Linked DNA regions of Homo sapiens. The protein of the gene in region 2 interacts with the protein of the main gene of each other region in a pairwise test. Each region holds a gene or a part of one and is shown on either strand. Other genes may lie near its edges. The genes, in order: KAT6A and UBE2U.

What was found.
Region 1: the proteins of UBE2U (region 2) and KAT6A interact in a two-hybrid assay, tested with the Homo sapiens proteins (one large-scale study listed by BioGRID and IntAct).

The regions. Positions count from the first base shown.
Region 1 is NC_000008.11:41,971,722-41,975,549, forward strand, and holds part of KAT6A (histone acetyltransferase KAT6A), read right to left. Parts: intron 3,102-3,828; coding exon 2,983-3,101; intron 1-2,982. UniProt on the Homo sapiens protein: Histone acetyltransferase that acetylates lysine residues in histone H3 and histone H4 (in vitro). Component of the MOZ/MORF complex which has a histone H3 acetyltransferase activity. May act as a transcriptional coactivator for RUNX1 and RUNX2.
Region 2 is NC_000001.11:64,209,890-64,213,717, forward strand, and holds part of UBE2U (ubiquitin-conjugating enzyme E2 U), read left to right. Parts: intron 1-852; coding exon 853-950; intron 951-3,828. UniProt on the Homo sapiens protein: Catalyzes the covalent attachment of ubiquitin to other proteins.

The DNA.
Region 1 (3,828 bases), on a different chromosome or scaffold from region 2:
GAAGAAAATAGACTAGAGAGTGGGGTGGTGGCAAAAGCAGAAGCAAGTTTAGTCTGGAGGCAATTATAGCAGCCTAAGCCAGAGATGACAGTGGGTTGGCAGTAGCAAATACAGACATATTCTGAAGGCAGAACCATTAGGATTTGCTGATGGACTGAATGTGAAGTATGACAGAGAAAAAAAAAATCAAGATGACATCTCTGTGGGCCTAAGCAAGTACAGGATAGAGCTACCATTTACTCTTGTTCACCACTAAAAGCCAGAATCTATGGCTACAACAGTAAGAGCCTAGAACATCTTGCTGTGGCCAGAAGTAAATAAAAATGATGATGATGTGTTAAAAGGACAGAGGAGCTTCTAGAAAGGAGTTCCCCTCTGCCTAAATTTGGAACAATTTAAGCATCAAAATAAATACTAATAGCAATGGATTATAACCATAAAATAATCTATGAGTTTAAACAAAATGAATAAACAAATAGGAAGAAGAAAAAGCTTCTCCTTACAATAGAATGCCAATTAATAAATGGCAAAGAAATGATAGAATTAGAAAATAATGTTTGGCCACCAACAAAGTAAATGATTCAGGCAAAAATCATCTCTGGATGCTAAATGTGGTAGATAAAAGTTTGATGAAAAACAGGTTATCTGCATTTCTGTCTCAAAGTATGTCCCCCCAAGATACTTAATTATAGGTAGAAAGCAATGTTAGAGAAGAAACATGGATACCACCTAAACCAGGTGGTCACTGTTAGCAGCACTTGTGATGAGAACTTGGATATTACATGCCTTCTGATGTGACACACTGAGGAGGACACAGCACACCTGTGGAATTTTCTAATCATGAAAAATAAAACAAGCTCAAAGTGATGACATTCTATAAATGACCTGTGCACTTCAAAACTGTCAAGGTCATGAAAGATAAAGACTGAGGAACTGTTCCCAATTGGAAGGAGACTAGAGAGACGTGACAACTAAATTAGATAATAGTACTTAATTTGTGTTAAATTCCTGATTTGATGATTGGACCATGGTCATGTATGAGAACATTTCTGTTTTTAGGAAATACACACAAAAAATTAGGAGTAAAGGGATATTAACACATTATGTCTGCAACTTACTCGGGAGGAGAAAAAAAAATTCTTTCAGTCAGGAAGAACATAACTACTGCCTCCTTTCAGTTCCCACTGAAGTCCATGTAGATTTCTACTAGAGTACCTATAATAACTCACTAGCATGAAAGGAAACAAGCTTTGAGGGCAACCTGCCCAAAGGAGAAGTTAGTAAATGACAGATCAAGACTTGAACCCAGATCCACCTGAATCAAAGCCAATATTTTGTTAAATCATAATACAGCAGAATGCTGAGTAAATGCGTGCTGAGTATTTGTACTGCTGTTTTATTTTTCCAAAAGTACTCACATAATGACCGACATCAACAGTCTATTCACCACCACTGGGTCTCTTAATATGAAGAGTTTTCCCTAGAACCCTCGGCATCAGCCTTAGAATTTTTTTTTTTTTTTGAGATGGAGTCTCACTCTGTTGCCCAGGCTGGAGTGGTGTGGCACGATCTCGGCTCACTGCAACCTCCACCTCCCGGATTCAAGTGATTCTTCTGCCTCAGCCTCCCGAGTAGCTGGGACCACAGGCGTGTGCCACCGGCTAATTTTTGTATTTTTAGTAGAGACGGGGTTTCACCATGCTGGCCAGGCTGGTCTCGAATTCCTGACCTCAAGTGATCCACCCGCCTCGGCCTCCCAATGTGCTGGGATTACAGGGGTGAGCCACCGTGCCCAGCCTAGAAATTCTTCTTTTCAAGATAAAAGAGAACTTGGCTTACATGGTACATTTGTTGGTGGCAAAGAAGGAAAAGACAAAAAATAAATGAACATAATCTGGAAGAGCCTTTATGATCTAGCCCCTGCACTTTTCCAACCTCACCTCCTGCCATTCTCCACACCCTATATTCTTTATCCTGAGCCATTTTAATTCCCACAATTAAGCATGTTTTCCCCTATCTTCAAGTCTATTCCACCTTCACTTCTGTTCCTTCTGATTATATAAGAACCAACTCCCTACATATCCCTTTAAGGGATATGTACAACTCCTACATATCCTTTAAGGCCCCTCAATGAATCCTCCTCTGACCTCCCCAGGCAGAAGTAGAAGCTGGCTTCCCTATTCTCCCAAAACATCAAGTATTCTATAATTGAACTTTTCATATTAATGACATTACTTATTCACAAATCTCTCCTATAGTTCAGGGAAAGAATTCAGTCATTCACTGGCATCTCCAGCATGTGGCACATAGACTCTGTCTATATATTTACGATCTTGCCATGTGTCACAAAGAATTGCAATTTTTTTTTTTTTGGAAGACAGGGTCTCACTCTGTCACCCAGGCTGGAGTACAGTGGCATGATCTCAGGTCACTGCAACCTCCATTTCCCCAGCTCAAGCAATTCTCCTGCCTCAGCCTCCTAAATAGCTGTGACTACAGGTGTGCACCAACATACCTGGCTAATTTTTCTATTTTTTTTTTGAGATGGGGTTTTGCCATTTTGCCCCAGCTGGTCTCAAACTCCCAGACTCAAGCAATCCACCCACCTTGGCAAAGTGCTAGGATTACAGGCATGAAATACTTCTTGAATTAATAAATATAGGTGTTTTATCACTCATGAGAAGCTTGTTTTTTGTTTGTTTTTGGTCAAATCCCAAATTCTTCTTCATACAGTAAGACAAAAAATAAACCAAGCTTATTTAATATTGATAGTCAAAGCCATGTGCTTATCTGCAAAACCAAAGCAGTTATCATGGGTTTGAAAGGAATATTATAAACAGCAGAACTACATATACACACAAACCACAACTATTCTGAGATTAGGCAAACTGCTGTTACTGCTTAACCCACAATGTAATTAATCTGCTGTTTCTCAGCCATGAACAAGTTGCTTGATTGTCTAACCTGAATATCCAACTTTACCTGCAGTGCTTGTTCTTGGATATCACGAAATAATTCCATATCTTTCTCAGTCATGATTTCCTGGCTCCCAAAAAGTCGCTCCTCATTTTCTTGTTTGCCATCCCAGCCATCCTGATTGTCTACATATAAAAAAAGAGCTCACATGTTAACTGTCCCCAGATTAATACATGAACTAGAAAAAATTTCAGGTCTTTATTTCAATTTGAAGAACTTAATATATAACGAAGAATATAGCATTAAACTGACTCTTAGAAGAATGCTACTCAATAAATAATATTTATGTATTAAATCTGCCTTATAGTGGAAATCCTGAATTGTCTTAAAGCTTCCTAAAAATATTATATAACTAAATTTAAACTTCATTAAAGATTACATTTTAATACACAGAAAGGCAGACAGAAAAATGATATAAGGAATATAAATTTCATTTTGAAATAGTATAAATTTGACACTTTTAGTATAGGTTTAATGCATCAACGTTCAAAAAAACCTCTTGAGTAGCTACCTTAACTGATGTCAGCAGTACTAACTCCCATCACATTCTGGGTGCCCTTTTAAAGTTAAAGCACAAACTTTAAAACACTGTCCTTTTAAAGCACAAACTCTATTTACCCAGATGATAATCATCTGGGTAAATATGAAAACGTATGATAATTATCTACTAAATGATGGAACTTCCTCAAGTTGGCAAAAAACTAGTGAAGAGAGTATTTGGGACTTATGAAGATCATTATCCTTTGCATTTGAAGATGACACTGCTGTTGGGCTCATTTGCTCTCTTTATAAGTATGGCTGAAAAGACCAATTGGTGACAGTTCTCAAGTCAACTGCACATATGGGCCATCT
Region 2 (3,828 bases):
TGAATACTTGAGAAGTAAACATTTCCCACCTTTGTTGATTCTTATTTTGTGACTCGTATGATACAATTGACAGTGCTATCACATTGTCCTAGATGTTGCAAATATTTCCTCTAATTTGTCATTAATTTTCAACTTTGTTTATGCTGTTTTTTCACATCTGGGATTTAGAGATTTTTATGATTTAAAATAAATTTATATTTAAGATCTATTAATCTTGTCCTTTGAGGCTTTTGCAGTTGTCTTTCATCTTAGATGATCCTTTCCCAAAAGAAAATCAAATAGTCATTTTAAGTTTCTTCTAGTCATTCTACAGTTTTATTTTTCTTATTTAACTCTATTATTTTTTCAAACACTAAATTACTTAACTGTGTTAGGGCATATGCCAAGCTCCTGTACATCTTTCCAACTTAACATAACAGGACAACGCTGGAGGGAGGTTGTGCCCATCCTCAATGTGAAGATTCCATTTCTGGGACTAAGGCATTTACTGTTTGTCACCATTTCCAGTCTGGGGGAAGGGGGAAGAAAAGAAGGAAAGCCAGCTTCCTTTAAAAAAAGACTCAGAAATTGCACACTTATCCTTATGTCCCACAACAAAAACTTAGTCACAAGGCCACATCTTGCTAAAGGAGAGGATAGGAAAAACTGTAGGGGCACCTATGTATTCAGCTAAAACAACATGGTAATGGGTGGGAACCAGGGATGGGTATAGTGCTTCTCAGTACAGAGAGAAGAACTAGGAAAAAGGAAGAGTAAATGCAGATAATTTTTCTGGCTTATCATTTTGATGTTTGTAAGTTTTAAATAATAATTTATTATAAATGCAAATATTAATGTATTATTTTAATACAGTAGACCCACACACTGGTCAGCCCTGTATAGACTTTTTGGACAACCCTGAGAAGTGGAATACAAACTATACATTGAGCAGCATCTTACTTGCCCTACAGGTAAGAATGGATTTCATATAATCCTCTCTTTAATACTTTTAATTACCCTAATTATTCAAACTACAAGGATTAAAATATACAATGCATATTTAAGTGTTTAAAGAATTTGAGAAGTTTATTTAAATCCATACTTCTATATGAAGGCTACAAAGTGGAACTTACTTAAATTATAAAAACTATTATTTAAAGTGAAATTGATAGTTAAGGCCCCTCAAGACCAAAGAATGCATATCTTATAAAAGAATAAAATAATTATTTAGATGGTTTCAATTCTGAAAATATAACCTTAGGTTTTCTTTTGGTTCCTAACTTCACTTCCTGATGTTGAGCAAGCCTTTTAGATCTTTCTTCATTTATGGACCTTGCCTTCCTGAGAGAGGTGGATCGAATGACTACAACTTAAAATGTTCACTTTTGTTTTTTGTTTCTGACAGTGCTAGTTAGCTACTTTCTGTCCCAATAGTGTTCACATCAAACCCAGTGAACAATTTATACCAAGGATTTTCTCCTCTCCTCAGATGCCTGTTTCTCAGATGCCACCTTTACCCACTGGACCCATGGTCCTTAGAAGCATACCTCAGTGTTGTGCTATTTCTTTTCTTTTCTTTTTTTCTTTTTGAGACAGGATCTTGCTCTGTCACCCAGGCTAGAGTGCAACGGCACAATCCTGGCTCACTGCAGCCTCAACCTCCTGGGCTCAAGTGATCCTCCCACCTCAGCCCCTCAAGTAGCTGGGACCACCGGCATGCCCTACCATGGATGGCTAATTTTTTAAATTTTCTGTAGAGACGGGGTCTCACTATGTTGCTCAGGTTGGCCTCAAACTCCTGGGCTCAAGCAATCCTCCCACCTCAGCCTCCCAAAATGCTGGAATTACAGGCAAGAGCCACCACATCCACCCAGTGTTGTGTTATTTCTGGTCCTTAAAAATGCCTCCTTTCTCATCTAATGCTAAAATGAATTATTTCAGTGAACTTGCTTTGACCTCTTAGAGCTAGCTTAGCAATAATCTATCCATGACCTACTTATCACCAATAATATCTGAAGATAAATAATTACATTTTGATTATCTAGAATACTTGGAATATAAAATACTCTGGCATAATTGAGTTTTTAAATATAGAATTATAATATAAATTGCATTTCTTCTATTTCTTGTATTTGAAAATAAATAAAATAATACTTTCCTGGCTAGTCATCTTAGCATACTAAGTAAAATATAATCTTTAGGAAAGATTCAATGTTCAGTTCATTCATTCATTCTACAAATATGTATTGAGGATCTACTTGTGTGAGGTTGTGTTCTAGGAAGGAGACATTTGAGCAAAAAATTTAAGGGAGTGAGTGAGTGTGATATGCAGAAATCTGGGGTTAATCCTTTGGATTCCTTTAAACTGAGACATATTCTGATCTCATCCACCTAAACTAGAGTCTGCCCTAAGAATAGCAAAATGATCCCAAAATGTAATGAGTAAGGGCAAACCAGAATGAACTGGTGAAAATTTTGAATTGCAGAATAATTTGATAAAAGGAAAATGTGGGGCTCTGAGTTAGCTTGCTTGGCTTCACATCCTGGTTCTGCCACTTGATACCTTTGTATCTATCATTGGACAAATTTTTCCACTTCTCAATGTCTCAATTTCTTCATCAGTAAAATGGGGCTGTTGTTACCTCATGTAACCTGTGAGGAGGAAATTAATTAATGTGTGTAAAGAATTCGGAACTGTGCCTGGTCCAAGAAAATAACTCAATAGTTAATACAGGTCGAGTATTTCTTATCTGAAATGCTTAGGAATTGGAAATTTTTCCAATTTTTGAATATTTGCATTACATATACTTACCATTTGAGCATCCCAAATTTGAAAATTTGAAATCTGAAATACTCCAGTGAGCATTTCCTTTGCACATCATGTCGGTCCTCAAAAAGTTTTGAATTCTGGGGTATTTAGGATTTCAGATTTTCAGATTTAGGATGCTGAACCTCTAGTTAGTTAACATTATGATTGTTCTTACTATTAAAGAGTAATGCAAAGTGACACCAAAGTGTTGCCAAATATATCATGGAAAGCCAGTAGATAACACAATTTTGTCTTTTTATTTTTCGAAAACATTAATAAAACAAATATGCCCACATTACAAAAGATTTTTAAGATAATGGGAAGGAAAAGAAAATCACTGACAATTATAAAGAAAACCCTTAACTTTACTGTTACTAGGAAAGAGCTTTCTGCTCTTTTCTCCTGTTTTTCAGTTTAAAATCTTTCAGTGGATCCCACCTTCTCCACAGGTGTAAGCTCTAGTTCTGTTGCATATCTAATCCTCACACCTAGACTCTCCCTAACACACCAGGCAATCCTGCTCATACTTATATCTTCATGCTTTTCTGCACTCACATTGCTTGGGTCAATTCAGATAAAAAAAACATTCATAGAGTTCTAAAGTTACCTTAGAAATGGTCAGTCTCCAGTTCCCCTCTGCCTGGCAACTCATTTTCTCCTCTTCTCTTCCTCAGTCTGTCCAGCAAGCAGTTGTTCATGTTGTTGTAAGAGTTGGAACAAATGAATCGTCCTCTAGGATACCTTTTCTGATTTATTTTCCTAGGGAGAATTAATAGCTTTGGTTTTGGGGGAGCTTCCTTTGCTACACACCCAACAGTACCCTGAGCAGATTTCTGTTAGAACACTAATACTATAAAGCACACACTGCTTACTTATCTGTCTTCCCCTATTGGACTGCAAGCTCCCCAAAATCAGGAAACAGGTCTAATTCATCCTTGATTTCCTGGAGCATACCAAAGACAATGCTGACATTTGGTAGATATTAAATAAAATGAATGAATGAATGAACCTGAATTTTTACATTATTGCTATTATGGTAT